Linked DNA regions of Homo sapiens: regions 2, 3 and 4 are each reported to be linked to region 1. The links are microRNA targets in miRTarBase. Many come from high-throughput screens and were not tested one by one. Region 1 holds a microRNA gene; each other region holds the end of a gene's coding sequence.
Evidence for each region. Region 1 holds the annotated microRNA hsa-miR-603 (CACACACUGCAAUUACUUUUGC, at 4,677-4,698, shown strand). A microRNA usually pairs through its seed, bases 2 to 8, with sites in the 3' UTR of a target mRNA and lowers its output. Matches are read on the target gene's strand: a 7mer-m8 pairs with bases 2 to 8, a 7mer-A1 pairs with bases 2 to 7 and ends in A, and an 8mer does both.

Region 2: the mRNA of CASD1 is a reported target of hsa-miR-603. The part of its 3' UTR that is shown has no 7-base or 8-base seed match.
Region 3: miRTarBase lists TCF15 as a target of hsa-miR-603. Seed matches in the 3' UTR shown: 7mer-A1 at 6,810-6,816 and 7mer-m8 at 6,787-6,793.
Region 4: the mRNA of NFAT5 is a reported target of hsa-miR-603. Seed matches in the 3' UTR shown: 7mer-A1 at 2,283-2,289 and 7mer-A1 at 437-443.

The regions. Positions count from the first base shown.
Region 1 is chr10:24,271,069-24,279,208 of GRCh38, forward strand. It overlaps MIR603 (microRNA 603), which reads left to right and starts at 4,617; the gene lies at 4,617-4,713. All of the region lies in intron 2 of KIAA1217, which reads left to right.
Region 2 is chr7:94,554,823-94,562,962 of GRCh38, forward strand. CASD1 (CAS1 domain sialic acid O acetyltransferase 1) reads left to right here. Exons shown (of 18, transcript NM_022900.5): 18 at 670-2,197. The coding sequence ends at 936. LOC105375404 (a long non-coding RNA gene) reads right to left here and starts at 3,673. Exons shown (of 4, transcript XR_007060433.1): 1 at 3,600-3,673. RefSeq lists an enhancer at 1,288-1,337.
Region 3 is chr20:597,519-605,658 of GRCh38, forward strand. It overlaps TCF15 (transcription factor 15), which reads right to left. Exons shown (of 2, transcript NM_004609.4): 2 at 6,739-7,147. The coding sequence ends at 7,073. Among named protein-coding and RNA genes, the nearest start is that of TCF15, 8.7 kb to the right of the region's middle.
Region 4 is chr16:69,693,995-69,702,134 of GRCh38, reverse strand. It overlaps NFAT5 (nuclear factor of activated T cells 5), which reads right to left. Exons shown (of 15, transcript NM_138713.4): 13 at 7,896-8,140; 14 at 6,756-6,999; 15 at 1-5,775. The coding sequence ends at 6,764. Among named protein-coding and RNA genes, the nearest start is that of SNORD13H, 11 kb to the left of the region's middle.

The DNA.
Region 1 (8,140 bases):
TTCTTAATTTGTCTATAATTTTTCCTTTAATTGGTAGTTTGGCTCCATTTTCAAAGTACTTTTGAAGCTTTCTTTTCCAATTTGGCATCAAAGTTATTTTTCTAAGTGCCATTCAATTTGGGACTTATTTTCTATTTTGATTGACATAAAATATGTCATTCTGAAAGGAAAAATATCAACACAGTTTTTGAGTAAGAAACTCAGTAACATTGAACTTAGTAATCACCTCCCTAGGAGTGAAATTTCATGGTCATATATATTGAAAAAACCTCACAATATAACCAACATGCTATCTGAATCTTGATTGAGATTCCACATCATAAGTGCTAATTTCAGTTCTGACTATAACCAATTTGTTAGTTTATACTTACTCTTTACTAAAGGAAAGAAGAGTAGGAATAGGATGGTGCGGTGGCTCACACCTGTAATTCTAGCACTTTGGGAGGCCGAGGTGGGTAGATCACATGAACCCAGGAGTTCAAGACCAGCGTGGGCAACGTGGCAAAACCCCATCTCTGCAAAAAATTATAATAATTAGCCAGGCGTGGTGGCATGTACTTGTAGTCCCAGGTACTGGAGAGGCTGAGGTGGAAGGATCACCTGAGCCTGGGGAGGTTGAGGCTGCAGTGTGTCGAGATTGTGCCACTGCACTTCAGCCTGGGTGACAGAGTGAGACCCTGTCTTAAAAAAAAAAAAGAGTGAGAATAATGAAACTGTGCACACGCAGGCCTTTTAATAAACTTTCCCCCTGTACGCAGCCCATTCTAGCTATATATATTTCTTGGTCCCAGCCTCTTCAAATAAAAATTGTTTTATTCAAAAGTATGACCTAGCCTTATACAAGATAAGATAGCCCACTTAAAAGTGGCATAAAAGGCCACTTTTATGCATCTCCATTTTAGGTTGGTTACAAGAGGCACAGAGAGACCAAAGCCCATGGGATGCTCGTGAGAGTAGGAAATTGGGTGGGAAGGGTGGACTCGGGAGACAACCTGACATCTCTCTACTTGAAGCCTAGCAATAAGGTTCAAAGGTTCCTCATGCCTTGTTTTCCCTTCTCTCTACATGATTAAGATCCCATTCCTGTAACAGATAGCAATGTGTTTATGCAGTAAAATTAGATAAGGGAGATTACTAGGGAAGTCACTACTCAGTTAGGGATGTCAGTGGTGCTCACTGCAGGTCCAGGTTAGTAATAAGAACTCTGGACTAGTAGCTAGGAGTGCTTGAATCTAGATTAGTTCTACTTTCTAACTCGATGTGTGACATTTTTTCCACTTAATTTTTTTGGCCTTGGTTATCTTATTGGAAAAAATATTCAAGTTGCACAAATAACTAAATGATGCCTGAGTTTTCATTCAGTTCTAAAACTTCTCAACTGAGCAATCTGTTGTTGAAAGGAGAGTACGAGTTCTAAAAGCTACTCTAGGGAGCTCTGCATTCACCAAGCCGCTCCATCATTGTTGGGAAGAAAATACTAAGGTTGACTCATTGTCAAAGCCACATTCTACTCAAACTCAATGTACATAACTCGAATTCTAGCCACATTCCAGCCAAATTGAGATAGCTGTTCAAATAGTCATGGATTTATTTAATAACTGACTTCGAAATTCTTTACTTCTTTCAAGGTGGCATTAACAAGTATTTCGGAATTTCAACAGAGATCGGTTTTCACGTGCTCTTCAATGATCCCTGTGAAATAAATCATATTCAAGGGTTTTTTTCCCCTTATGAGTTATTCGCCTGAAGGAAGAATTCTTCATTTCTTTTTCTTTTAAATGCATGTTGGAATAAAGTCTTCTTTGAAAAGTCTTAATGAAAAGAGCAAACGTGGAATAGCATCCACCCCAGTTCTTTCTCTGGTCCTTGCACTCTGAGAATGAAGTCTTAGACAGCAGAATGTCAGGGGACTCTCATTGCGTAAAAGTCTGTGCCCTTCTGCGCCTTGGACAGTTATGGACAGAAGCCTTTAAGAAGAAGAAAATTAAAACTAGTTAATTTTTTAGTTAATTTTAGCAACACTACATATATGAGAGAGAGAAAAGATGGCATTTTCTGAATGAATGAGATGCCTCTGCATTTTGCCCAACTCATTGGAGACTCAGGATAGAGAAAAGGGAGAAATTATGTTTAGAGGCTGATAAATTTCCCTATGGTTACTATCAAGAGATCAGACTCTTATTAACATTTGCAAAGTGTGAGCAGAGAAGAGCATTTGAACAATAAGCATAGATTAAGTACTCCTCTTTCCTTCATTCCCTTTTCTCTAGTCATATTCTCAGACAGTCCAGGCTAAGTATTAATGATCTTCTTTGAAGTTAAACATACCCTTGCTACTTTCATTACATTATTATTTTTATGTTCTTCCTTTTGGAGTACTCAAGGTAAATGACATGGCAGAATCTGTCCCAGTCCAGTGAGGGTGTCACATAAGAGGCCCTTGGCTTACCTCTATGCATAACTGGCCCACGTCACATCTTTAATTAGAAGTCCAAGTTATTGGCTGGACGCCATGGCTCATGCCTGTAATCCAAGCACTTTGGGAGGCCAAGGTGGGTGGATCACCTGAGGTCAGGAGTTCGAGACCAGCCTGGCCAACATAGTGAAACCCTGTCTCTACTAAAAATGCAAATATCAGCCGGGTGTGGTGGCACATGCCTGTAATCACAGCTACTCGGGAGGCTTGAGGCTGGAGAATCGCCTGAGCACACGAGATGGAGGTTGCAGTGAGCCGAGATCGTGCCACTGTGTTCTAGCCTGGGCGACAGAACAAGACTCTGTCTCAAAAAAAAAAAAAAAGTCCAAGTTACTGTTGCAGGGATTGGGACATCTTGCCTTTCTCAAGTTGAGCAATATTCCCAAATATAAAAATGTAGGATCTTAGTCCAATCAGAGCAGATATTTGGTGTAGGGCATTTTCTAATGTAGTACCAATAAATTAGACGCATACCTCAACCAAAAAACAGCCCATATCCAGTAAGTAATAAGGCAATGATTTACATTTCACATATTACCAGAGTAATGACTAATAGCATACATGTATAAACTGAAAAGTGACTGATGCTTATTTTCAGATGGGTCCAAATTTATTGGATAATTATGGAGAATAATGTATGTTTTCTGAGAGTTGGTAGTAAGAAAATATTGCCATTGCTGGCCAGGCACAATGGCTCACACCTATAATCCCAGCATTTTGGGAGACTTGAGGTCAGGAGTTCATGACCAGCCACCTCAGCCTCCCAAGTAACTAGAACTACTGGTGCATGCCACCAAGTCCAGCTAATTTTTTTTTTTTTTTGAGACGGAATATTGCTCTGTCACCCAGATTGGCTGTGTTCTCCATTCTAAGTCCAGTGGTTAGAAATTGTCAAGTTCTCACATCTGCAAAAAAAGTAAAAAAGATGAACCTGCTACATCTAAATATACTTTGTTGTCTTCCTACAAGTCCTATTTTACATACTTATGGCATTTTTACTGCAGTTTGAAAATACAGTCAATTCTTGTTATTCACAGTATTGATGTTCTATAAACTTGCCCTAAATACTGCATTAGTGAGTCCTGAATTTATTAGTTAATACTGAATTTCCTAGGGGAAATACAGGGTTAGGTTCCTGTGAGTCTTTGGTTACCTTTTTATCAACCAATCAACAAAAATCCTTATTTTACCTGTGTTTTTGTTTGAAGACACCTTTTAAAATATATATTATTGATTCATTAGCATTGAACTAAGCTTATCTAATGCACTTATTTTTTGTGTAAGGTGTATCACAGCCTTCTTGAGCCTAGGAATGCCAAATAGTACTTCCACACCATACTTAAGGGCCATTTCATTTTATTTCTTATTTTTAAAATTTATTCTCTTTTCTTATTTAAAGAAAAAATTTGTAGATGCCGGGTCTCGCCCTCTTGACCAGGCTGGAGTGCAGTGACACAATCACAACTCACTGGAGCCTCAAACTCCTGGGCTCAAGTGATCTTCCCACCTCAGCCTCCCAAATATCTGGGACTACAGGCACACGCCACCATGCCCAGCTAATTTTTTAATTTTATTTTTTTGTAGAGGCAGGGTCTGGCTATGTTTTTGAGGTCTTAATTCCCCAATGAACATGACTAGTATATTCCAGGCTGGTCTTGAACTCCTGTCACAAAGCAATTCTCTTGCCTTAGCCTCCCAAAGTGCTGGGATTTCAGGCATGAGCCACTGCACCTGGCTTGGACCATTTTAAATAGTGAAGTCACTCACACACACATACACGCATGCAGGTGCACACACAGACACAAAAAGACACAAAAATGCGAAACTTGTGGCACTAAAAAGACTGTGGAAAGGGTGCTTCCTTACAGTATGAAAACTGAAACAAAAAAGCAGAGTGTTGTTTAGTTAGACGCCACCTGGGAACGTGCTTGTTGGGAAACTCCAGTTGTCCACTGTCCTGCCATGTCTATGATGACTGCAAACATTTGGGAGTATTAATTTGAGGGTCACAAACAGATTTTAGGTGATGGGCATATTTACAAATACAGAATCTGCTAGTAATGAGGACTGACTGTATAATGCTTTAGTAGTCTCAAGTATGTTTTTTTTCTCATTAAGCCTTTGCTTAAGATGCAGGCAAGATTGATGCTGTTGGTTTGGTGCAAAAGTAATTGCAGTGCTTCCCATTTAAAAGTAATGGCACACACTGCAATTACTTTTGCTCCAACTTAATACTTGGCTTTATTGACTTTTAGCATCAGTGCAGTTTGGTTAATGATAAAATTTTCCAAAGCAGTGTCTCATCTGCAGGAGCAAACTATAGCAAGGGCCCTGGCCATCAGTTCTCCCTTCTGGTCCTGATATTCCTTTTTAAACTGTCTTTCCATACCCCTCCCTCCAGTGGGCTTGGCGATGTTGCATTAAATAGCAAAGAGAAGGAAACTCCTCCCCAGTCCTCACTGACCATTTCTTTTTCCACTCAGTCCTGCTCAGAATGTAGAAGAGAAGTTGAATTTAATTCATAAATTCAGCAGCTTGAGGACTGTCAGTTTTGTCGTTATTTAGTGAAATAGTAATTGAATTGGGCTACAAGGTCATTGGAATCTGCTGTTTCATTTCATATCATTTTACGTGTTATTATTCTAATAAGAATACAAATGGAGTTTGATGCCATTTGCTGATCATCCATCTTATTGATGCCATTGAACAGAACGCAGAAACACAAAGGGATTTATAAGGCATTTCAGTTTTGATGTCCTTTGAAAAATGAAAGTCTTTTCAGAAATGCAAAAGACAAAATGACTTAGAATTCCATCTCGTTCTGCCCGGTTTGAGGGCATCCCTTCCTATTCCTTAGATAGCTGTTAATAAGAGTCCTGAGGAAAACTGGGTTTGAATTTAAAAACAAAAAATTTTTAAGAGACAGGGTCTCGCTTTGTCACCCAGGCTGGAGTGCAGTGGCACAATCATAGCCCCTGTAACCTTGAAGTCCTGGACTCAAGTGATGCTCCCACCTCAGCCTCCCTAGTAGCTGGAACTACTGGCACATGCCATCAAGTCCAGCTTTTTTTTTTTTTTTTTCTGAGATGGAATCTCACTTTGTCACCGAGGCCGTAGTGCAGTGGCGCGATCTCGGCTCACAGCAACCTCTGTCTCTCAAGTTCAAGTGATTGTCCTGCCTCAGCCTCCTGAGTAGCTGGGACTACAAGCATGTGCTACTACGCCCAGCTAATTTTTGTATTTTTAGTAGAGACAGGGTTTCACCATATTGGCCAGGCTGGTCTGGAACTCCTGACCTTGTGATCCGTCCGCCTCAGCCTCTCAAAGTGCTGGGATTACAGGCATGAGCCACCACACCCAGCCAAGTCCAGCTAATTAAAAAAAAAATAAAAATCGTAGAGATGGGGTCTCCCCGTGTTGCCCAAGCTGGTGTCAAATTCCTGACCTCAAGCAATCCTCCCACCTCGGCCTCCCAAAGCTCTATGATTATAGATGTGAGCTGCCATGCCTGGCCTTAAATTTTTCAAAAGCTTTTAAACCAATCTTAAAATGTTTTATCCTCTTAGAATCATGTCCCTAGTTTTATAGCTTGGAAATTCTTGCTCTTTTCAAATTGCTCTTTAACTCTGGCCTGATTGGAAGGTGGCAGCTTTTCAAATACAGGTCATGGCAGCGCTCAACCTGGATTCCTCAGTTGCAGAAGACTGCTTTTGCTAGACTGCTGAATTTACTTCCAACTTTTCAGATGTTTCTGAGGTTGACCCTGGTGTGGTTCCCACTCAAAGTGGAGCAAGCAGGTGGGTGGCAGGTCTCTTCTTAGCGGCTTCCTAGAGGGAAGCCTCGTGAGTGGGATGGGGGACAGGTTGCCCTGGGGGAGCCCAGGAATGGGGAGACAAGGCCACCTGCTATGCAGATGATATAGTTTGGCTGTGTACCCACCCACTTCTCATCTTGAATTGTAGTTCCCATAATCCCCACATGTTGTGGGAGGAACCTGGTGGGAGGTAATTGAATCATGGGGGCGGTTTTCCCCATGCTATTTTCATAATAGTGAGTGAGTTCTCATGAAAGCTGATGGTTTTATAAGGGGCTTTCCCTTTCACTGGGCACTCATTCTTCTCCTTGCTGCTGCCATGTGAAGAAGGACGTGTTTGCTTCCCCTTCAACCATGATTGTAAGTTTCCTGAGGCCTCCCCAGCCCTGCAGAACTGTGAGTCAATTAAACCTCTTTCCTTTATAAATTACCCAATCTCAGGTTTGTCCTAATCGCAGCATGAGAATGGCCTAATACAGTAGGTTTTCCTGAGTCCTCTCTCTGACTCACCCTCTGACGGGCAAAAGACAGTGGCAGCACTGCCAGCAATCAGCTGGGAACTTCTCCCCTGTGATAGAAAGCAGTGCTTGCTGGCTTCCCTTTGTGATGCTTTTGGACAGCAGCTCTATGGACCTATGCCTTTTGTCCTTTGAGGACGGACGCACAGTCTGTGCAGCTCGAGGACGCCGTCATGGGTGAGATGCTGTGGAGTGTGATGACGCCACCTCTTAGGCTGTGTGTGAAAGTAGCGAGGAGAGGCAGGGTCTGCATGAGCCACTTTGGAGCAGGCCAAAACACTGTGGAGAAGCACATTACAGCCACAGTGGCGGTGTAAAGGGTCAGACTGACCACTGGCTTCTGGAAAGTCTTCATTTCTGAAAGACTGTCAGGTAGAAGATGGATGAGAGTTACTCTGTGAGGCCGGAAACCTAGAACTCAGACCATTGTGTGCAGACCAGGGAGAGGCAGTGTTTGGAGTGAGATAAGCAGGAATTTTGAAATTACACAGACCCGGTTTTGAATTTACTCATGAGCTGTGTGGCTTAGAGAAAGCTGTTTAATCCCACTGACCTTCATCTGTGAAGTGTCCAAAAATAATACAGAGCTTGCAGAGTTGTGTGGATAAGGGATAATCTATCGAAAGCATGTGGCAAGTGGCAGACACAATGTGGGCACTAGGCAAGTGGCAAGTCCCTTGTATTGAGTCTTATTTGTCTATTCAGTGAATATTTGGATACCAACTCTGCTGTTCTGGGCATGATGTTAGCCACTGGGGAGACAGAAGGAATGAAAGAGATGAGTAACCTAATGTGTGCTGTCTAGTGGGGACTGCAAATAAAGTGGGTGTTACCACTAGCGTGCTCTACAGTGTTATGCTAGAGAGAAATTTACTTCCTTTGGCCACTCACTTCCTTGTTTTTAAATAAGAACTGAGTTAAAGTTGCTAACTGTGAAGACTGAGTAATTTGAATCTGCTGTTGGTGTACTCAGATTACTTTTTTTTTTTTTTTTCTTGGAGACAGAGTCTCACTCTGTTGCTCAGGCTGGAGTGCAGCGGCCCAATCTCAGCTCACTGCAACCTCTGCCTCCCAGGCTCAAGCGATTCTCATGCCTCAGCCTCCTGAGTAGCTGGGATTACAGTCACGGGCCACCACTAATTTTTGTATTTATAGTAGAGACAGGGTTTGCCAGGCTGGTCTTGAACTCCCAACCTCAGGTGATCCGCACATCTTGGCCTCCCAAAGTACTGGGATTGCAGGCATAAGCCACCACACCCAGCTCAGATTACTGTTTACTCAAATTAATGGGGATGATTGAGGATGAAACAGTGCAGGGATTCCCCATTGTTT
Region 2 (8,140 bases), not on the chromosome of region 1:
ACGTTGTCTTGAGCTTTCAAGCACAACCAAGATGCTGAGACCAAGAGAGAAAAATATTAGACCAGGTATATAAATGAAATCAAACTGAGGGGATTTTGATTTTTTGTTCATCTCCATAATTAAATATATTACTGGAATTCAGTTTATTGATGCATACCATAATAAAATTTACCCTTATTATGATTGGAAATTGTGGGAGAAAGTATAAACTCATTACATTTTGTGTAAGATACATAATATGAAATTATCTACAAAATCAGTTTGAACAGTAGGTTTTAAAATGTATTCTGAGTAGTCTAAGCTTTATTATTTGAAATAGAATGTTTTAAAACAATTTATATTGTAATAACAACATATATTTTAGAGTTTTTAGAGTATAGGATTTATTAAATTGTCTCTTAAAATAGGGAAAATAAATTCCTCTTTGAGTTCTTGAATAATTGTTCTATTATTTTCTTTGGTCTCATTTATAAGAGAGATTGTATTAGCAGTTGGAGTTCTAAGGAGTAGACTGCAGTGGACTTTTCAGGGCCAGTAGTGAGACAGAATAAAATGGTTTTAGGAAAGCCTTCTAATGTTATTATGCAACCAAATTGTTTAAATTAGGGAAAACTGTAATTTATTCATGGACCCTCTATAAATATCTGACTTAAATATTTTTTCTCCTAGCTATTTATTTGCCAGTATCACATATGGCTGGCAGCGGACACAAGGGGTATCTTGGTACTGATACCTGGAAACCCTATGCTCAACATCATTGTCAGCACTTTCATATTTGTTTGTGTGGCACATGAAATTTCTCAGATCACTAATGATCTTGCACAGATTATTATTCCTAAAGATAACTCATCTCTCTTGAAAAGGTTGGCATGTATAGCTGCATTTTTTTGTGGACTCCTCATCTTATCATCCATTCAAGATAAATCAAAACATTAGGTTCCAAAAATTCTAAAAAACCTAAACTCTTCAGGCTACCTTTGTGTGTCTCTAGAAGAGAAAAGCATCTATCTGGAGATATAAATGTGTATGTAAATATAAACGTTTGTGGCAAGAGGACAGTTCTGTGACATCTGTTGAACATATGTGGTTGTATATATTGGAAATGTACATATCCAATATGAAATACTAAAACAAACAAACAAACAAAAAACCAGAATGCATTGTATAGGATTGCATGTGAAGTCTTTTCTACTGAATCTATATTTCCATTTGTAAGTGATTTTAAGTTAACATATGAAGGCAGGGAAATGATTACCTTTCCAGTAAAAAGTATAGATAATTTAATTAACTTAGTGACACCACCAAGTGTTTTGATATAACTAAATTTGTGGTAATAAGACTGTCTGCACCTGTATTCATTGTGGAACTTCCTCTTTCATTGGAAACTTTCTTACTCAAGAATGACGGCAGTATTGTTTTCTTATATGTGCAATGAAGTGGAATGATAAACAGTATGCCTTTAATTTATATGTGTTCTTGTTCTGATGTTGTTTCCTGAAATGATTTTTCTTCCTAACTGTGGTTTTCGGGTATGCAAGCCTAAATCTTTGTACACTTTGTCTCACAGAATAGTTCTGAGGCTCCATGACAGGGTTTTGTCATTGTTGATGTTATTGTTGCTTCGTTTTATAAAAAAGCCAAAATTTTTTTTCCAATCCAAACGTTCACCTGTTTCCTTTCCTCAAGCTATACCAGTGTAATACCAGTTACCCTGTGGATCCATTTAATATGTTATCCCCACTAATTAATTTTCGTATATTATTTCCAATATTTGGAAAGCTCTTTATAGCCATTTGGTATTTCCTATTACCCACCTCCTATTTTAAATATTTATCAGTCTAAACTTGTGCAGTGTAGTAAACATGCAAGTTGTTACGATTGAGCTGTATTACCATAAGTAGAATTTTAAGTAAACTGGTGAATTTGGGCAATAAATGTTTTTGCTTTTTGTTTGATTTTTTTTTACAAGCTAACTGTTAGAGGTATACATTTATTTATCTGTTGTACAGATTTGATTATGATTTTAATGTTTGAAAGATTGCACTTGTTTGCTTTTACTATATGTGGGGTAAAATATATTTTCTGTTCACAGTATATGAAAATATGGAGTAATTTAAACAGTAAATAAACATTCTGTGGATGCTTATTTTTGTATTGGCAAAGTATCAATTAAACTATATGTGTTCTTTTTCAAAAATGCTGGATCCATTCATGATTGGTTCAAATATCTAATTATTTCCTCAACTTAAATTTGCTTTTTAAATTGCTTAATATGTAGGGGTAGGTTACCAAATGATAGTTGGATAAGGAATCATTTAGTTATCAGAGCTTCAGAGGGTCATCTGCTTTCCACCAAGGAAGTTTAAGCATTATGGTTCATTAGTGATTTTGCTTGAAGATTTTAAAAATGTACTTATTATTTATTTAGCACTGGATTTATGTGCTACTGATATACCTCCATTAATAGAGGAATATTTCTTGGACAGAGATGTGTGTTCTTTCCTTTTCTCTCTTCTTTTGCCCTTACTTAATCTTTTGACATTTCCCAGATAGACAATTGTAATGATTCATTGCTCTGCCTCCTAGACTGCAGCCTTATAAGTAGAGAATAGTATAGTTATAAATCAAAAACTTCCAAGTACTGTGATCACATTATTCTTGTTCATGTAGCTTGCCAATGAGTAGAGTGCATTTTAATTTAGCTTGTAAGTTTTATCACCTGAAAAAGATTCTTCTTGATGAAACAATTGAAAAAGAAAGATGACCAGTCTCCCTGTGTATTTTGGAAGCACTTATGTCTTCAGTAGGGATGCCGCAGTGAATATATGCTTTTCTCTCCTATTTGAACTGAAGCCTAAAACTTACCTGGTGAGCCCTGTTTCTTCATCACTTGTTCTTATTTAATATAAAGCACTATTTTTTACATATAATTATATAATAATCTGTATAATTTAAAAATAATTTATTTGTAGTTAAAAATATTTTTTATATTTGATTTTCTTAATTAGTCTTAAAAGGTTATTGTGGAAGTTGCCACAATGATAGCACCTATATATACGGTAAATGTCTTAATATTTTATTTTCTGCATCGACTCAGATACTGACCATTTGCATTACTCAATCATACCATTCTTTAGAATAAGATTTTTAACAGGATGTTTAGATATGCTAAAGTTGAGATAAAACCACAGAGGTTCTCTAAATTCAGATTTTTCTGTAATAGAAATCACAGTCAGAAATCTACCATCTGGCTTTAAAAGGTACTTGCTTGACTGAATTCTACCTCAATCGTTCCTCCTTTCCTTTGCCAAAACTTCCCATTTTTGTGGGTAGCCAATAGAAGCATTAAAAATTCAGCCCATCTAAATTAATAATGTTTTACAAGGATGTGGGACCCAAGTTCATTTATTATTCTATTCTCGAATGACTTTATACTAAAACCTTAAAACGGGAATGCATCCTGGATATAGTCATTGATATCATAAACTGGATGTGTTCCATGGCTTGCATTGCAGACAATTCAGTGTTTTGTGTAATGAATTGGATGTACCACATGGGAGTCTGTTGCATAACAGGAGATTAGGTAGTATTGTACTTACAGATTTTTGGAACAGTTGAAAGAAATTCAATTCTTCACATCATTCAAGAGAAAAATTACCTTTTTAGCTTAATAGTGAAGACTGAAATAAAGATTGACAATTTTGGTTGGCAGTTCAATCCATCTTACCACTTTGAATATTTCTCTGCAAAGACATTCAAAAATGATTGCATACATTTATGACTTAATTTGTTCATTCTTGTGTTCATTCCCCAAATCATAATTGTGATTTGGGGAAACTTATTTGGCAAGGTGTATTCTGGCTCATTTTCTTATTCTAAAAATGGTTTCCAGAAAAGGAAGTGGTCGTCCAAACTATATTCCCAAAATTGTGGTGTTTGATGACTGATTTCCAGAATAGATTTCTTATTTTATTTAATTAATTAATTAATTTTTTGAGGCAGGGTCTTACTCTGTCACCTAGGCTGGAGTGCAGTGGCGTGATCTTGGCTTACTGCAACCTCCGCCTCCTGGGTTCAAGCAATTCTCCTGCCTCAGCCTCCTGAGTAGCTGGAATTACAGGTGCCTGCCACCATACCTGGCTAATTTTTGTATTTTTAGTAGAGTTGGGGTTTCACCCTGTTGGCCAAGCTGGTCTCCAATTCCTGGCCTCAAGCGATCCACCTGCCTCAGCCTCCCAAAGTGCTGGGATTACAGGCGTGAGCCACTGTGCCTGGCCTGATTTTCTGATTTTAAATCTTACAAAAATTTAATGGCACTATTTGTTCTGCCTTTCCATATTAATAGTCATAGTAGAAACAAGGAGACACAAATGGAAGCTATTTAACTGGCATTCAATGTGGTACCAGAACCTAAATATAACAATATTGGAATACCCAAATTCTGTATATATGTCTGTGTGTGTGTGTGTGTGTGTGTGTGTGTATGTGTGTGTGTGTGTGTGTATATATATATGTATATATATGGAATAATTTCTTTTACAATTACGCAGACATTTATGTTCAAAAGTAACCATTATGAACAATTTGGGGGAAATATGAAATGGAATAAAATACCCTTTGTCTTTCAGGGATTCAGCAGTAAAATTGTCCTGAGCACCTGACATTTTACATCTTAGTAAAAAAGATACTAAAATTGTTTTGCTTTTGTTTTGTTTTGTTTTGAGAGGCAGTCTCGCTCTCTTGCCCAGGCTGGAGTGCAATGGCGCAATCTCGGCTCACTGCATCCTCTGCCTCCCAGGTTCAAGCAATTCTCCTGCCTCAGCTTCCCAGGTAGCTGGGATTACAGGTGTGCACCACCATGCCTGGCTAATTTTTATATTTTTAGTAGAGACGGGGTTTCACCGTGTTGGCCAGGCTGTTGTCGAATTCCTGACCTCAGGTGATCCACCTTCCTCGGTCTCCCAAAGTGCTAGGATATAGGCGTGAGCCACCGTGCCCAGCCAAAAATGTATTAAAATTCTTATTTGGAATTCAAAGTAAAACTAAGAAAAATGGAATAATTAAATGTATTTTCCCTTTATTTTCAAATTAAAATATCTTCAATATTATACATGCCTATGTTATATTAAAAGCTTATACTATCATTCAGTAAAAATAAAGCTTGATTCTATATCTGGCAGTTTTGTTGGTTTGTTTTGTTGTTTTAATTCTTAGGCTTTGTCTTTCTCTTTTCTATCCATCCTTAGTACTTGATTTTTGACTGTAGCTCTTTCATAAGTAGGTTAGTATTTGTTTTGTTTTTAACAAGTCACAGGGTCAAAGTCCTGCTGATAGACGGAATGAATATGCCTTCCTTCATAAGACTAGACTAGACAGGTTTTTGAAGATAACTAATATTGGGAGTGGCATGATGTGTTTTTCTTAGGTTAGTCAGGAGAAAATAGTGGCAGTTATTTCTGGTGTTGAGAGAAAACTAGAACTAAGAATTCAGCACTTTCTTTCCTTGACCCCTTCCATTTTATCCCCACCTCTAGACCCTGTCACTGGGAGAGACAAAGTGATGGAAAAACATTTAGTTGAAGTCTGAGGAATCCAGTACTTCCAAAGTACGTAATGCATAAGGCACATGGAACTGGAGCCCTTTCTCAGAGACTACAAAATTAAAAATGGAAACTATAAAGAAGTAATACCTGGGCCAGAATATCCAGGAAAAGTTTTAGAGTAACGGGAGAAGTGGGATTTGTAAAGTTGTATATTTGGATATATTATTTACACTAATATCAGTGTGGAATGGATGCAAGAATATATAGATTAATGGATAGAATCAGCATAAAAACAGATTTTATCAAAAGATATTAGAATAAGGTAATGGTTTGATTTCACATTACTGGGGAAAGGTAGAAATATTCTTTAAATAGCCCTGGGACTATTGCTTAATTGAGGGGTGAGAGTGATAAATTCCCATTCTTACTCTGTATACCAAAAGAAATATAAAATGATTAATAGGTTTAAAGACATGTAAAATAAACAGTAGAAAATGTAGGTGAACATCTCATTCTTAGATGAGAAATGACCTGTTAAGGCTAAAAGGTAAATCCAGAATTGCTACATCTATTACGTGAAAATTTAAAATTTCAGTATGCCCAAAAACATAATAGAAAAAATACAAGTGGGAACATTTTAGAACATTAATATTTGATGAGAATTTAATGTCCTGGTTCGTGACCAGCCTGGCCAATATGGCAAAACCCCATCTCTACTAAAAATACAAAAAATTAGCCAGGTGTGGTGGTGGGGGCCTGTAATTCCAGCTACTTGGGAGGCTGAGGCAGGAGAATCGTTTGAACCCAGAGGCAGAGGTTGCAATGAGCCGAGATCACGCTATTGCACTCCAGCCTGGGCAACAAGAGCGAAACTCTGCCTCAAAAAAAAATTAATATCCTGGGTATATAGAGAGCTCTTATAGTTTAGAAACACCAAGCTGTTTTCCAAATTTCACTTGGTTCCTAATTCTACACAGAAGGTCACTTCATTCAGATACCTCAATGTTCATTACATAAATAATTTAACTTGGAAGAACATCAGGAAACCACAGTACTCAAAGTTAGGCTTTCTATGGATGCTTTTTGGGAATTGCGGGGAGGGCAAAGATTTTTTAATGGCCACTGTTATGCCTTCCTTAAACATTTTCCAAACTAAAATTAATTAAGACTAGGTTATATTGAGCAGAACTTTGGAACCTAAATGGCCCATCTGTCTGTGTGAGAGCACAGATTCAATTTTTTTTTTTCCTAAAGAGAACCTCGGTCAAACTCTAGAGTATTCTCTCAGAAACTACTGATTATTAAACTCAAGTTTGCCTAAAAGATGTCACTCCTACACCAGCTTAATGTCTCATTAAGACAGTTTTTCTTAGAACCCTAGGGTGGCTGAACTCCAGTCATGAACCGTCAGCTAGCTAATATCTATCTTCTGTGAGTTTGACTGTGGTTAACAGTATTTATAAAGGAATGTTAGGGATTTGCTTTTTATCACTTCCTCAGATACTTTAGAATGTACCTGAGAATTAAGTCTGGCAAGCACCTAGCAAAGACCGCCTGGACAGTAACTTCCTGACTTACCCCTAGAATTTCTCTTGAGTTTGAAGCCATTGGTTAGCATTGCAGGACATTCTATAAACAATTCTATGAAACTCATCATTGTGTCAACTGTAGGAATGTTGATTACATCACACAATGGGCTCTTTTTGTGGAGTCTGAAGTTATTCTGACCTTACTGTAATATTTGCACCTCTTGTAAACAGTTCATTTGCTACTATCTTAGGTACATTGTGAGTTGGCTTTTTATGTTTGCCGATAAGAAGCAAGAGCTAAATTTGTGCTCCATCTAGAAAACAGGGCACTTTGGTATTGTTTATATTAGTCTCATTCTTGATCCCTTTTTCCTTCTCATATACTTCAGATGATGTTATTTGGCTATATTTTGCCTAGCCTTATAAGCCATCTTACATTCTTTTTTGAAATGAGGCAGTCTGGTAGTCCTAAGTGTTTCTTCAGACCACACCAGTCAGGATGATCAAGAGTCATAGTATATACAAATGGTAGTAGTAATATTTTTGCCTCACTGGTTATGTTTGAAAATCCTAGTCTTCCAAGTCATTTATCTCCTCATTAGGGTCCCTGAGTTGCTCACGAAATGTCCCTATAACAAATGTTCACAGTTCTCTGCAATTTATGAAAATAAGGCCGAAAGTTCTCCTTATCCTGTTCACTTCATGTGTTTCTTTTCAGTCGATACAGTTTCCTTTTTTTTTTCTTTGAGATTACCAAAAATTCCAATGGTAGCTATGCCATTTCCTTCTCTAACTGCCAATTGTTTCCTCTTTTGAAATTGCTGCTCTGTGGACCAGATGTCAGGCTGCAAACTCAAGGTGTTGGTACACACTTGCCCTTATGACGTAGCAATAACCTCTTCTATGGATGCTTCTTACTGCCATGTCAACATGTTCCAGTCTGGGAGTGGTTTCATTTTAGACCAGGTGGTCTCCTACTGGGATGTAGTCTCAGCTGACCCCCTTTTTTTTTATGCCAGAGAATGCTGGAGGATTCAGGAAAATTCCTGTATTTTACAGCTTAGTTTT
Region 3 (8,140 bases), not on the chromosome of region 1:
CACTCTATCCCATGCCTCCTGCTGAGTTTTACCCTCCTGCTGTGATGCAGGCTGTGGGATCTGGAGCTAGACCCCCTCAGTTGGAATCCTGGCTGTGCCATTGCCTAGCTGGGTGCCCTTGGGCTTGGTTTTCTAGTCTGTGAAATGGGGATAGCAACAGTACCTACCTATGTGGCTTGTTGCAAGTGAGGCCATCTCTGTATGTCACTCAGAGAAGTGCCTTGGATTAGTCAGTTCCATCAACATCAGGACTAGGCACGCACCTGGTGAGGTCATGTGGGGGTGGTGGTTGAGAGCCCAGTGGGGCTCTGCAGCTAGAACATCTGATTCAAATCCACCAGCCACTGTGTCACCTTGGCCAAGTTCTTTAACCTCCTTGTGCCTCCGTTTCCTCATCTATAAAATGGAGCAATAATAATACATATCTAACCAGCTTTTGAGCAAGCTGTATGTATGTATGTATTTATTTATTTAGAGACGGGGTCTTACTCTATTGCCCAGGCTGGAGTGCAGTGGTGCAATCTCGGCTCACTGCAACCTCCAACTCCTGGGTTGAAGGGATTTTCCTGCCTCGGCCTCCTGAGTAGCTGGGATTACAGGCACGCACCACCATGCCCAGCTAATTTTTGTATTTTTAGCAGAGATGGGGTTTGGCCATGTTGGCCAGGCTGGTCTTGAACTCCTGGCCTCAAGTGATCTGCCCTCCTCCGCCTTCCAAAGCACTGTGATTACAGGCATGAGCCACTGCCCCCCGCGAAGCTGTATTTATTTTATGTAAAGTGCATAGCCTAGGCCTGACACGTAGTAGGTCCTCAAAAGAGTCAGGCATTTTTCCAAGCCATTCAGAAAAAAACAACTCCTAGATTTTATCAGCCTTCCCTCCCACAAGGCCAGTGTGTCCCAGCTGACAAAGTTGCTGGCCGTGCTGACGTGAGGAAAAGCAAGGGCCAGAGAGGGCCAGACGCCTACCCTGGGTCACACAGGAGCAGTGGCCAACCTAGAATAGGCTAGGTCTTCTGTCTCGCAGCCTGTTCATCCTGAGTGCCTCCCTGGTTTCCAGGCCCTGCTGGCCTGCCCTCTGACCCTAGCCCCCTGGGAGCTCTATCCCAGGCCCATGGGGTCTGCAAATCTGGTCTGGATTAGACACGCTGAGAAGCAAACGCCAGCCCCCCCAGCCGGCTGCCCAGTGGGACCTGTGCTCACAGCTGCTGAGGCTCATAGGGACATAAATCATGGTGGCAGGAGACTCGGGGGATGGGACCACCTTAGCCTCCTAAGGGGCACAGGGGCCTGAGAGTCACGAGCAGAGGCACCTGGGTCTGCTGGGGATATTTTCCATCGTCTGTTGGACAAGCTAAAGCCAGGGTGCATCAGAGGGGGCCAGGACACCATTTGGCAGCCCTCGCATCACAGTAGGCCAAGATCCCAACTTCTTTTTAACTTTTCATTTTGCAATCATTTACAACATGCAGAAAAGTGACAAAAGTGGTGCAGAGAACTCCCATATACCCTGTACTCAGATTCACCACATTTTAAGTTTGTCATATTTACTCTATCCTTTTCTCTCACACATATATTATTTCTCTTCTGAACCATTTGAGAGAGCACGTTACCTACATCATACTTCTCCTTAATAGTACTTCAGGATGTATTTTTTTTTTTTTTTTTGAGACGGAGTCTCACTCTGTCACCCAGGCTGGAGTGCAATGGTGCGATCTTGGCTCACTGCAACCTCTGCCTCCCGGGTTCGAGCAGTTCTCCTGCCTCAGCCTCCCGAGTAGCTGGGATTACAGGCGCCTGCCACCACAGGGTTTCACCATGTTGGCCAGGCTGGTCTCGAACTCCTGACCTCAGGTGATGCGCCCACCTCGGCCTCCCAAAGTGCTGGGATTACAAGCTGAGCCACCACGCCCGGCCTAGGATGTAATTCTTAAGCACAAGGATATCCTCTGACACAATCAGGGTGCTGTTAGCAAATACAGAAAATTTAACTTTGATGCAATACCTTAATCTATTGTTCATATCCCAATTTTGTGTGACCATGTCTCAAAAAAAAAAATTGTCAACTCTACCAAGAAGGTCCCCTGTCACATTTTCCCCTCTGCAGTACAGGATCCAGTTCAAAGTCATGTATCGCATTTACCTGTTCAGGTCTATACTTGATATCACAACTACACGAGGTAAAATATACAGTCGTAAGAGACACAGATGGGGTTGAACAAAGACATCCAACTTCATATGTACGTCCCATGAACCAATGTTTCTATAAATCCTCTAATTATATGGTGTTCCACAATAATGCATCACGCTCCTGACTGTGTGGAGGTAGTTAAGAGTTAACTTGCCAGGCCAGGCACAGTGGCTCACACCTGTAATCCCAGCACTTTGGGAGGCTGAGGCTGGAGGATTGCTTGAGCCCAGGAATTTGAGACTAGCCTGGGCAACATGGCGAAACCCCCTCAAAATAAAAAATTAGCTGGGCATCATGGTGCACACCTGTAGTCCCAGCTACTCAGGAGGCTGAGGCGCTAGGACTACCTGACTCCAGGAGGTGGAGGCTGCAGTGAGCCATGATCGTGCCACCTGCACTCCAGCCTGGGTGACAGGGTGTAACCGTGTCTCAAAGAAAAAAAAAAGTTAACTTACCAAATATGCCATAGTCTTCAGCACTCTCTTTTTGTAGTGCTTCATTTTTTAACCTAATAAAAGCCTCATAAAATGGGAGTGGCCTGGGACAATGAGGGGAACCTGAAGTGCTGTGGGTGCAAGAGGTCCTGTGTTCTCAGCCCTGCTCAGCTCCAGATGCTGTGCAACCGTGGCCCATCACCGCTCCTCTCTGAGCTTCAGGTTGCCATGGGTGACCTCTGAGGCCTTCCTGCTCATAACTGTGGAGTCAGAGAAAACAGCCCTGCATGGCAAGGAGGGAGATTTGTGTTCTTGGTGTCCCAACAGGGCCAAGGACCTGCTGGGGAACCCCAGGCAGGTTGCCCTCTGTCTTGTCTCACTTTCTTCATTGTGAAATGATGAACTCTGAGATTATTCTTGTGCTGCTGCTTCATGTGTCAAGACTTGCAGGGAGAGTGTAACCCTTTGGGGTCCAAGGTGGCCTGGCTGAGTCGGTCATTCCAACCCCTTCAGTCCTGGATTTCTTCTCCCTGAGCAGCTTTACTCCTGTGGCCTCAAGTTGGCCTGGAGAAGCTTGGCTGGGCTGGACCATCCCGGAGGCGACAGGCATGCTGGGGGAGCGGACAATGTTACAAAATGTTCCCCAGAGGAGCTGCCTATATATGCAGACCACACCTGTGCTTCTCCCCGGTCACGTGTGTGGGCTGACCTTGCAGCTCACAAAGGCTCATGGGCATTAACTGTCCATTACCAGGAAGATAGCAAGCTGCAAAATATGCATAATGGAGCACTATGCAGCTATGAAAAGGTGTGAAACAGCTCTGTAAGCAACCAAGGGTCTCCAAGAAGTACAGTTAAGAAAAAAAAATCCAGTGCAGAGAGGAGTGTGTGAAATGCTACCACTTGTGTGGAAAAACAATATCTATGTAATTTGCCTATATATGCAGACCATCTCTGCCGGAATCCATAGGATCCTGGTTACCTTAACATAGCAATTGCCTCTGGGGACTGGAGCTGGTGGCTGGGAGAGAAGGAGACTTATTGTCAGTTTATTCTTTTTTGTGTCTCATTCAAAGGAAAGAACCGGTATGTGTAGATGTGCAAGAGGGGCTGGCTCCTGGGAAGCTGCTAATTGCATTTCTTGATCTCCATGCTGGGTGTACAGGTGTGCTCAGCTTGTGAAAATCCATTGAGCTGTACCCTTACACCCTGTGCACTTTCCTGAATGTGTCTTATACTTCCATAAAAAGTGTAAACTTGGCCGGGCGCAGTAACTCATGCCTGTAATCCCAGCACTTTGGGAGGCCAACATGGGTGGGTCACCTGAGGTCAGGAGTTCGAGACCAGCCTTGCCAACATGGTGAAACCCCGTCTTTACTAAAAATACAAAAATTAGCCAGGCGTGGTGGTGCACGTCTGTACTCCCAGCTACTCAGGAGGCTGAGGCAGGAGAATCGCTTGAACCCGGGAGGTGGAGGTTGCAGTGAGCCAAGATCACGCCACTGCACTCCAACCTGGGTGACAGAGTGAGATCCATCTTAAAAAAAAAAAAAAAGCGTAAACTTAGCATGGTTTAAATGATTTGTTAAGCGTATGTGTGCTAGTTTAACAAAAACGCTGCAGAGCTGGGCGCAGTGGCTCATGCCTATAATCCCAGCACTTTGGGAGGCTGAGGTGGATCGCTTGAGCCCAGGAGCTGGAGACCAGCCTGCATAACATAGTAAGAACCTGTCTCTACAAAATAAACAAATAAATAAAATTAGCCAGGCCTGGTGGTGTATGCCCGTATTTCCAGCTACTCCGCAGGCTGAGGTGGGAGGATCACTTGAGGACAGGAGGTTAAGCCTGCAGCGAGCTATGACTGTGCCACTGCACTCCAGCCTGGGTGACAGAGTGAGACCCTATCTCAAACAAAACAACAAAAAATACTCGGTGGGATTATCGTCTTCACTGTGGCTGTCTCTGGGATAAGTGATATTTCTAGAGTCTTATAGCATTTTGAATTTGTTTTACAATGAAAGCACAGGCAGAGAAACCTATAAATATTTTTTCAGAAACAGTTATCAGTATAGAAGCTTTTTTGGAAGGACACTCAGGAAGCTGCCTCTGGGGAGGGGCCTGAGGAGGTCTGTACTTTTCACTGCATACCATTTGATACAACTTGGATTACTTACCAGTGCATACAGGGTCTATTAAAAACTATCTCACAAAGCAAAACAAATACTTATCTTTCTGTTCTAGCTGCTCTTACTAGTTAGAGACTGAGCCAGGGAGGCCCAGAGGGGTCAAGCAACATCTCTGGGGTCACCCAGCAAATCTGGTGGCGGAGTGGGCCTCCAGCCAGAGCACCCAAGTGTCTGCTCTGCCCCCACTCCCAGGCTTCCTGCCATTGACAAGGCCACAGTCCTTTTCCTGTGGCTTTGCCAGAGGCTGGCTGTACCTGGGAGGGTAGGCGCAGGGGGAGCAATGTGCTTTCCTAATCAGCTCCCAAAGGGGGAAGCACAGCCACGCTGGGACACAGGATAAGCACGACCAGTGTTCCTGAAACAGCGGGGAAGTGAGGTAGAGGGTGCTTGGAAAGCTCTCCTGGGTGGGGGACCCCGGCCCCCTGGGGCCCTCCTTCCTCTACTTCTTACACCAAAGGAATTAAGCATGGTAATTTCATGGCCTGCTCCAGCCTAGGGACTGGCAATTCCACAACTCCCTTGATCTCCCTGGGCCTCGGTTTTCATCTGTGAGGAAGACCAGGTTGGTCGGGCTCATTCCTGTGGCATCTGGCACAGTGCCTGCCACACAGAGGGTATTGACAATCTGTTTGTCAATTTGCAAAATCGGAGCCACAATTCAGGCTCAGATGGTCAAACGCAGGGGAGTGGGGTAGAGGCAGAACAGAGGGGATACGAACGTGGACTCTGGGGCCAGAGTGCAGTCAGTAAACATGAAATAGATCACTTGAGCTCAGGAGTTTGAGACCAGCCTGGGCAACATAGTGAGACCCTGTCTCTAAAAAAATAAAAATAAAAGTGTTTGTTAAATAAATAAACTGTTGAAATAGGCATATGAATGTACCTTGCTGAGGAGAGGGTGGCTGCCTGGCTGCCCTGGCCTTTCCCTGGCTCTCCCACCCTCGGGCCTCTCGAGCTTCTCTGATCCTGACCTCACAGGGACACAGCCCCAGCCCGAGAGCCAAGAACTCCTAGCTGCACTGATCAGCTGACGCATCGCTGTCTCTGCTGGGTCTGCAGTGGGGAAGACACCAGCTCTCACCTCCCAGGGCTCCTGGGAGTGTAATTGGGGTAACAGGTGCTGGCTTTCCACTTGGGGCATCTCCAGGGCAAGGAAGGAGCTGCTCTGGGCTTCAAAGGTGGACGGACCTCAGGGTGTCACCCTGCCACGTGCCTCTGGGTGTCATCGGTCTTCTAAAGCATTTCAGCTAACACAGGGGTAAGAATATTCCCCTTTAGCATGCACTCATTTGCACTTGTGGAAAACCACATGGCTTGTTGGTGATCGCATCAAAGAGGGATGGGTTAAAGGATGGCATGTTCACAAAATGGAATAATAAGCAGCTCAGGAAGAAATGAAATACCCTTTAGGTACTGACTTGGGATGATACCAAGCTAGATTAAGGAAAAAAAGAAGGAGCCAAAAGTGTGTACGATGTGCTGTCATTTGTGTATTTGCCTGATCATTCATAGTGAATGGGACATCACAGGAAACTGGTGCCCTAGGCTGCTTGCAGAGAGGAGAGCTGGTGGCTGGAGGACAGGGGCACGGAGACTTTTCAACACATACCCTCTGGTACCTTCTGAGTTTTGAACCATGTGAATGAAATGAACACAGGCCTTATTCAAAAATAAGTAAAATTAAGATTTCTTTACCAACCATATCAGACACCTAACAGTTGTTAAGAACATCTGATAAACAGCAGACTGAGGAAAGTTTGGTTATGGCGCCCGGAGAGGGGGCTCTGCCTGCCTTCCCCCGCCCCACCCCCACCCTTCCAGGGCTCAGGGCAGCCCCCAGAACATCTGTGCCTCTCTCTAGGTCCAGGGGAGGGCCCACCTCTGACCTCCGATGTCCACGGGACTCTCCTCAGCTCAGAACGACGTCTTTTATTTAAAAATAGCTTTTATTTTAAACTCACCAATTCTCTCTCACACACACTCACACTCACGCACAGATACACACACACCCTGTCACCAACAGTCTTTGTTTTTCCAAAAGTTCTGCCTTGTCTCTGACCAGCCAGAGCTGGGCAGGCTGAATGGATCCTCACAGCTCTCCAGGATCGGGTGGAGATGTCCCGAGGGCCCTGCCCAGAGTGTCCCGGAACAGGCCATGGTCCCCCGGTCCCTACACAAAGAAGGGGTGGGCTTGGCTCCTGGGGTCTTCTTCCCTGTCCAGCCAGTGGCTGGCTCCTGGCCTCCTTCTCCAGGGTCCAGGCTCATCTCCGTGGCCCTCGAAGGGGGGCCACCCCCCTCACCTTCAAGCAGCTGCCCCCCAGGTCACGACGGCCACCCTGCAGAGGGGGAGAAAGAGTATAAAGAGGTTCGATTAGGCCAGTGTGAACACTGGAACTAACCTCTGTATCCCTCAAGAGGGATCCTGATCAATAAATCACAGTTCAGCCACACGATCAAGTTCTCTGCAACAGAAAGCAGAAGAAACCCTTTCTGGACTGATACAGACTGCTGCCAAATGACAATGTTTAGGGACAAAAGCAAGGGGCAGGCTGAATGCGCCTGTGTGCTGTGATTGCTGGGGAGAAGCACACACGGGAAATTGTGAGTGGGTTTCTTCAGAGAGGAATTTGATGATGGAGAGAGGATGGGAGGGAGGCTCTCTCATGCTATACTGTTTTTTGAGATGGAGTCTTGCTCTGTTGCCAGGCTGGAATGCAGTGGCACAATCTCAGCTCACTGCAACCTCTGCCTCCCGGGTTCAAGTGATTCTCCTGCCTCATCCTCCCGAGTAGCGGGGACTACAGGGGCCCACCGCCACACCCGGCTAATTTTTGTATTCACGCTATACTTTTTTACCTTTTCTACTTCTTTCCCATATGATCTGTTGCTTAAAAAAAATCCAATATATTTTAAAGCATAATATTTTACACGGGCAAAACAAGCACACCCCACAGTGGTCCTCCCCCTGCCTGACTGCATGCCTAGCGGCTCACTCGTCCACCTTTAAAAGGGGACTCGGTTTCTGGCCTCCTTGACTTCCCTCAGGGCGTCCCCTTTCCCAGGAATGTGCTCTCAGGTCTTGTCTCCCTGGAAAGGTTTCTCTGTTCCTGAAATTGCCTAGCACTTCCTGCCTTTCTGGGGACATTCCATGGGGATGAATCTCAGAAGGACAAGGCAGGGTCTCTCCTTTGTCTCCCCATCTGGACTGGGATCTCAGGGAGTGGTAGGGAAAAGGAGTTCTTCACTCTGTGGTCCCATTTCCAGCCTGGGCTCTCTTGGCCCAGGACCTGACTTGGAGCAGGCACCAATCAAGGCCGCCTGAATTAAGT
Region 4 (8,140 bases), not on the chromosome of region 1:
CATAAAAGTTTGCAGTCCTCAGTGCCACTAACAGTCACAGAAATACTAGCACGGGGAAAGCAGCCCTATCCCAAAGGTAGAACTATCCTGACCTGTTGCTGATGATCCTTTCTTTAAGCACCACCGCTGTGGTAAGGAGCTGGAATAGAGGCAAAATTAACAAAAACCAAGGCACTCCATCTGACTGTATCTGATCAAAAGGAATTATCTTAGGTCTGGAGGGAGTCAGATATAACCTTTTTCTCATTTCCTTTGACACTTTTTGTCTAGGTAAATTAACTGAGGATAGACAAGAAGTACACTAACATAAACAACTTTGCCCTGTCTAGTTAAAAAAAAGTGGCATAATCAGGCTTTACCTAAACTATGTTTTAGTGATTTATTTCCATCTAATTAACATCAGAGAAAATGCTTTCAACACTTTCTTCCTGAAATTTACACACATCTGGTGCATGGAGTTTCACAGATGCTAAAATTCTCATGAGTATTCAGATAAGACCTACCATTAGCTGGTTGAGATGAAGACAAATTTAGTTTATATAAAGGCTGAACAGTCTAATTCTGTAATCTTTTACCCTCTCCCAAAGAAACAATTCTAGCAATGTACCTTTTCTTTTATTCTTAAGCCAAAGGGAAGAAATGGAGAAAAGAAGGTTTAAATGGAAAAAGTAAAAGCTGGGACCTACTGAAACTATTTGTTTATGTGTTTTTGGAAATAGTGAAAAATGAAATTATAAATGATAAAAAGGCACTTTTCCATAGCATTAGATCTAGATATAAAATATTAATTTAAAAAATTTCCTGAAAGAGAAAGTAAAAACATAATTTTATTAATAAATGAGGCTAGAATGGCATAAAAATAAATGGGGATTAAAGAAGTAATTAGGCCGGATGTGGTGGCTCATGCCTGTAATCCTAGCACTTTGGGACGCCGAGGCAGGTGGATCACTGGAGGTTAGGAGTTCGAAACCAGCCTGGCCAACATGGCAAAACCCCATCTCTACTAAAAAAATACAAAAAAAATTAGCCGGGCCTAGTGGAGGGTGCCTGTAATCCTGGCTACTTGGGAGGCTGAGGCAGGAGAATCGCTTGAACCTGGGAGGTGGAGGCTGCAGTGAGCTGAGATCGCACACTGCTCTAGCCTGAGAGACAGAGCAAGACTCCATCTCAAAAAAAAAAAAAGAAGTAAAGTAACTAGAGCACTGGGACCTGGGACCATCCACAAATGATATTGTAGATATTATTCTGATATTTACTGCATTATGAGCATTATCTCTACAATTTTGCTCTAGTGACACAAACAAGCAGAGAAGAAAACCTCTTTTTAATACATGTTATGAGATTCTACTAACCCACTTACTAGGGTATATACTATGAGTTATTTTTCTAACCTATGGTCTTTCTTCATGGAGTCCCTCCACACAGTCTAAGGCATGCAGATATAAGACAGCTGTCTCGGTTAGGGATAAAACCTGTGGTCATAAAGCAGAGGAAAGCTAATTAATTTAAAAAATCTATTAGGAAACAGATATTGGAACAGAAATCTTCATCAGAAAAATGAAAAATTGTAAGATTACTATTTCTGGTGAAAATGTATAACCATGGTGATTTGAGACTTTAATTATTAAATCGTTTTGTCCTGGTCATTATTTGTTGATGCATCTAACAGATTCACTTTCCTAAAACAAGCATTTATAAAGGCTTAAATGGTCAAAACGCATTTATAAAGGCTTAAATGGTCAAAAAGAATTATCTTAGTTCTGGAGGGACTCAGATACAACTTTCTCATTTCCTTTGATACTATTTTTCCTAGGTAGATTAGCTGAGGTTCTGATGAGCAAGAAATGCACTAGAATAAAATTCCAAACTACAGCACATGTGATATTACAAAAAATAAAAATAAAAGGCAAGGAAGGATGAATGGAAGAAAGGAAGGAAGGGAGAAAGGAGGGAGGGAGGAATAAGGGAAGGAGAAACAAAGAAGGCAGGGAGGAGGGGGAGATGGAAGGGAAGAAGGGAGGCAGGGAGGGGAGGAAAGGGAGGGAGGAAGGAAAGTCCTTCATTAATACTTCTTCTATAATAAAGCCCTTAAAAACTTGTTCTTTTTTTAAACTATTTGTTTTAAAACAGATTTGCATTGGCTAAATAACATGATACTTTAATCATAAAGGTAACATGATCAAGCTTAGAGGCAAAATATGACTTTGAATTATCGTCACCCATGTTGGTGTGGATATATAATGGAATGACAATAAGGAAACACACACACACACACACACACATACACACACACACACAGAGAGAGAGAGAGAGAGAGAGAAAGAGATAAGCTCCAAGCATTAATGTGAGTTGCTGAAAGCAAGAACACTTAAATGTAACAATATAAAGAAGAAAAGGTGGCTCACAGTTTATTTAGGTCCTTCTGCCATAAATACATTTAATAAATTGTTGTTTCTATGGCCTTTGCTGGCTCACTGAGTCTCTCCCATATGTAGCTATAACTTGTAACAGTAATCAGGAAATTGCATTATTAGCACAAATATCAACCACTGAGCTTCAAAGAAGATGAATACTCTTCGTAGCCAAATTGTATTTTCAGAATGTTGTACTTAACATTGACCTTTAGGGGTAAGGAACATTTAACAATGTAAAAAAAACAACAAACCTATTATTATTGAACAAGAATATGGTAGCATAGCACAGCCCTTGTATAAATAACCACAAAATTTATGAGAATAAAAATCGGGTTTTCTGTCTCCATCCGATCAAACCACTACAGTTCAGGTATATATTCTGTTCTAAACTTAGATATTATAAAACAGAAAATTGGTCCCAGTGACTTGGCATTGCCAATTAGCATTTGATAACAATAAACCTCTTGCTAAACCACAGAAGTCAGCACACAAGCCAGTCGCCACTTCATCCACAGTGCAGTATTAACAATCATCCTAATTAGAACTTGAACAGATAGATTTCTTTAGTCTCCTATGTAATCTCTTAGAAAAAAGTTCAGAAAATTCAAAAATAACTTACAGATTTGTATTTATACTACTTTTTATACCTGCTGGGTTTGCTTTGTCTGAAATTTCAACCAACCCTACTTTAGGGTTAGAATTTTACATTTTCAAACTGAAGCACTGGATTGTGTGGCTGATCCTCCTCATAACCTGAACTATACTGGGTAATTTTTCCCAATAGGGGCTGGGGGAGAAGAGATACACTGAGGAAAATACTTTTGGTTCAGAGAATTTATAAAGTAGCTCTGGATATTACAAGATGGGAAAAATGTTATTAAAATTACAAACATGGGTTTTCTTAGTGTCTTTATAAATAAAAGGCATAGAATACAGAAAGCCAATTAATAATAACAATAACAACAATAATAAAATATTAAATATATAGTGAGCAAAGACTGAATGGCTCATTCTTGTGAAACACCATTTGACGCCATTGCCTCAATGGGTTTCCTGACTCTAACACTTGGCTGAGTGAAAGCTCCAGCAAACACACAGTAAGCTGCCTTTAGCCCACTACTGACATCAAGGAACTAACTGCCTGATGGAATGGCCACAGATGAACAGGTCATTTGTTTCAAAAGATACTTAAATACTCAATAAAGACATAACAAACCCCACCCCCCCTCACTGTTATCAGACGCCACGTTGTGGTAGAACATCAGACAAACTCACAAATTTACCACAAAAATGTGTGGCAAAAAAGAATAGTTTATATATATGTATATATATAAATTTCTATATTTATGCCAATGTACTCACTCAGTACAAATAGCAAAATAGTATACCATTTCCTAAATACAAAATATAGCTTTCCAAAAAAATGAAACACACATTAGATATAAACCATCCAAAACTTGAACGATTGAAAACTGTATTCAAAATTAAATGACCCAGAGTAGGTCTCTTTCTGAAAAGTTCCCTTCATATCGGCAAGAAGCCTGTACTACTGAAAACGTAATTCAATGCCTCTCAATCAGAGAGAGAAAGAAAGAAAGGGGTGGAGGTGGAGGGAAGAAAACATGAGAAAAAAGAGAAAAAGACAAAAGAGCACATTCAAAGAACAAAGGAAGATCATCACAAAACAAAAAGAAGGAAAAATCTGGCTGTGTAAACAAAACCAACACCACAATTCCGCACAGTTCAACTAAATGTACAGGATAGAAAAAAAAAAAAAAAAAGAACAGAAAAGTAGCCTTCAACAATTAACAGGTTATTTTTTGTACACTTAAAAAATAAATGAAACGGACAAGGATACCAAAACATTATCTCAACACATAGAAGCCACACACACGTTGGCCTTACACTGCATTGACAGCTTTCCACATGCCAAAAGGAAAATGAGACATAAGCATGTGTCCAGACACAGGTGGTAGTGAGAAGCAGGCATCCCACGGGTGGCAAGAACACCCAAAACTGTATAACTAATGCTACAACTGCCAAGTTCTGGAGTGTGTTATTTTGCTCTTTATAGATGTAACACAAGTTAATTCTTCATTTTAAGTCAATGATACAACCCTGTAAAGCCTAAGGCTTGTGGGAACCATCAGGTAAGTGACCACTTCAAACTGTAAAGCACTGAGGTGACAAGTGAATTTATACTCACTGCAGATCAGGGAGAAGTGATATTTCAAGAAATTTTAGTTTGCCTTTTTTTTTTAATTAAAATTTATACTGTTTCCTATTAGAGGGAAAAATTTGAAGACTTCAGAACAGCACCGTTCATGGGGAAAAATGTGTTGTTTCTCAGGAATCAACTCCTAATAATTCCTAAGACAGTACTCTCTGCCCTGTGCTGCAGGATTGCTAGGTCACCCTAGATTAAAGTGGCCAAAGATGCTACAGGGTCATGAAGCCAGTAGTATATTAATAGTTCTCTAAAGTAAAGTGAAAAAGAGGTGAAAAGTAATATAGATATATATAAAAAGGGAATACCAGCCTAAGACTGGGTTAAGAAGAAAACATTCAAATTTTTCTGTCAATTTAAACTACTGTAGGAGGATATCAGAACATAATTTATCATATATTATCCCCTTCATTTTTTACAGATAATTATTTTTCTATGCACAGTTATGGCTAAACCCCTTAGTAGAAACCCAGAGAACTAACAACTCTCTGAAAAAATAAAATCAAGAAGCATTCCAGCTGTTCCCAGTTTTATAAGTGTATCATCTGCCTTTGTGTTAAATCAAGAGTACTTTTATCTGCACATACAGTTTACTTGTTAGAATGTTACCCTTCAGTTTCTCCAATAAAACTGAAAAAAGATTCCTTCACTTTGGCCAACAGCTGTGCCTTTTATATTGAAAAAAATCACAGCCTTAGTTATTATTGAACTTTACTTTTTCAAAAGCCATTACTTGACTAAAACAATGCAGGAAAGAAAATAATGAAGAACAAAAGTAAACATGATATATTATTTTCTAATAGCAATAATAACTGAGTGGTCCAGCCTTGAATTTAAACTGTACGTTTAAGGAAATTGCGCCTAGGAAAATAATAACAATTAATTCTGCCAGCTGGAAACTCAAATAGATTCTCAGTCATCACTGTTATTAGGAATATAAAATATGAAGATGTTAACATTGGTGGTTAGTTACTGCAACAAGCAGCATAGGTGTGCTCTTTTGCAGTCAGAGTAAAATCTATCAGTTTACTCAAACACAGTTTTTTATATTTTGTTTTGTTTTTAAAGTAATAATTCTCATGGAACCACAAGATCTCAGGACATCTTGGAATCAGGATTTTCTTCGTGGAATTTCTAAAAAAGAGAAAAAGTTTAATTTAACTTACTAGGGAGGGAAGCATTTATAAAGTTTCTGACACCCTGAATGATCCTAAAGTATATTATGGTACTGTAAGTAAAACTTTATCATATTTGATCTTCCACAGACTTTTCTGACTCAATATTTATTTCTGGAGGAAGGGATAAGTGAGGCATGGTTATATCCAATATATAGTACAAAGGAAACACATTTTGCATACTCATCAGATGTTTTGTTATTCCAAGGCAAAGAAGCTCAGAGGCAGAAGGAATGTCCAATATAGGTTGAGTATCCCTTATCTAAAATGTTTGGGATCAGAAGTGTTTCTGATTTCTTTTTTGGATTTTGGAATATGCACATATACACAATGAGATATCTTGGGGATAAGACACAAGTCCAAACATGAAATTCACTTCTGTTTCACATACACCTAAAAAAATCTATCACAGCTGAAGGGAGCTGGAAGGATCTTTTTTACCCTTGGGGACACCAAATAAACTGCATGTTGTGAGCCTGACTTTTGACTATGACCCTATCATATGAGGTTAGGTGTGGAATTTTCCACTTGAGATGTCATGTCAGCACTCAAAAAGATTCGGATTTCAGAGCATTTTGGATTTTGGATTTTTGGACTAGGGATGTTTGGTCTGTATTTTTTTTTTTTTTTGTATTTTTTAGTAGAGACGGGGTTTCACCATGTTAGCCAGGATGGTCTCGATCGCCTGACCTCGTGATCCGCCCACCTTGGTCTCTCAAAGTGCTGGGATTACAGGCATGAGCCACCACGCCCGGCCTGGTCTGTATTAACTATATGACCATAAGCTATCATTCAGAATAATTTTATTCAGAGTAAAAAAGTATCATCTTGTGAGAAAGCCACATTTTAAAAGATTAGAACTACTATTACTTAACCTAAATCTGTTAAGAAGAATAAAATCTGATGCTTTTCAATAAGAAGCCAAAATGCAATACTTACATATCCAGTTAAAAGGAGCCAGTCAAGTTGTTCCCTTGGTTTTGCAATGAAACAAGCAAATCAATCTTTTCGATGTTCTGGTTGGTGTTTATAGAGGATGCCAGTGGAGAATTCTCTGGCATTTGCTGAGAAAGAAGTGTTGTCACAGGTGGCTGGCCCTCGTTTTGTGGTTGGCCTGGCTGACTTATGGCCATCAACTGATCAGGCAATGTAGCTGGTCCAGAGGTTAAAAGCTGACTACAGTCTGCAGAGACATTGAAAACAGAAGCTTAAAAGCTGACTACAGTCTGCAGAAACATTAAAAATAGAAGCTATCTGATTAGTAAAGATTCATGAAAAGATATTTATTAGTTGTTGGGGAAAATTCATTACTGCATTCTCCTTGTATATTACTAAAAGTTAGGCACCTGATAGTCCAAGAAAAAGGTTTTCACAGACTGGCACTGGAATTCATCTTAGGTTTCCTTTAAGCAGTCTAAAAATACAACTTTGCTTAAATATCAAAAGTCCTATATAAATTCCTTGGTATATAAACATTAAAGATGAGTTTCTACCTCCTTAGAAACTACTTACTTCAACTGGGTAAGGTATTATCTGTCATTCTGACTTCATTTTCCTTTTAAGTTTATAGCTTAAAATGGCAAACACACATTTTTATACATTGCCATATTTAATCCTCCCCAAATCCATGTAAAGTATGTAATATTATCACCATTTTAAATGAGAGAATTGAGACCCATAAAAGCCAAATAACTTGTACAAGATCTTATAGTCTATAGGTGATAGAGTTCTAACTACAATCTGTACTCTTAAAACAACTATACAGGACAGGTGTGGTGGCTCACGCCTGTAATCCCAGCACTTTGGGAGGCCGAGGCCAGCGGATCACTTGAGGTCAAAAATTCAACACCAGCCTGGCCAACATGGTGAAACCCCGCCTCTAACAAAAATACAAAAATTAGCTGGGCGTGGTTGTGCACACCTGTAATCCCAGCTGCTTGGGAGGCTGAGGCAGGAGAATCACCTGAACCTGGGAGGCAGAGGGTGCAGGTGCAGTGAGCTGAGATCGCACCACTGCACTCTGCTTCCTTCTAATAATAATAATGACCAATTAAGTAATGAAAAATTAGAGTTTCTTACTATTTTGAATGCCAAATAAGAACATTCCTGATGTCTGCTGAGATGAGCCAGGAGAATTCTGCAGTTGGTTCATTGTGCCTCCTGCTGTGTTGTGAAATAAAGTAGCCTGTGGTTGAGGCGAAGATGTGGCTCCTTGAATTCCAGGCATGTTGTTCTGAGGGGAATAAAGAGGAGACTGTTGCATATCTTGTTGATTTATACTGGTCTGCAAGGCAGACATGGATGCTGGAGATAAGAAGAGAGTT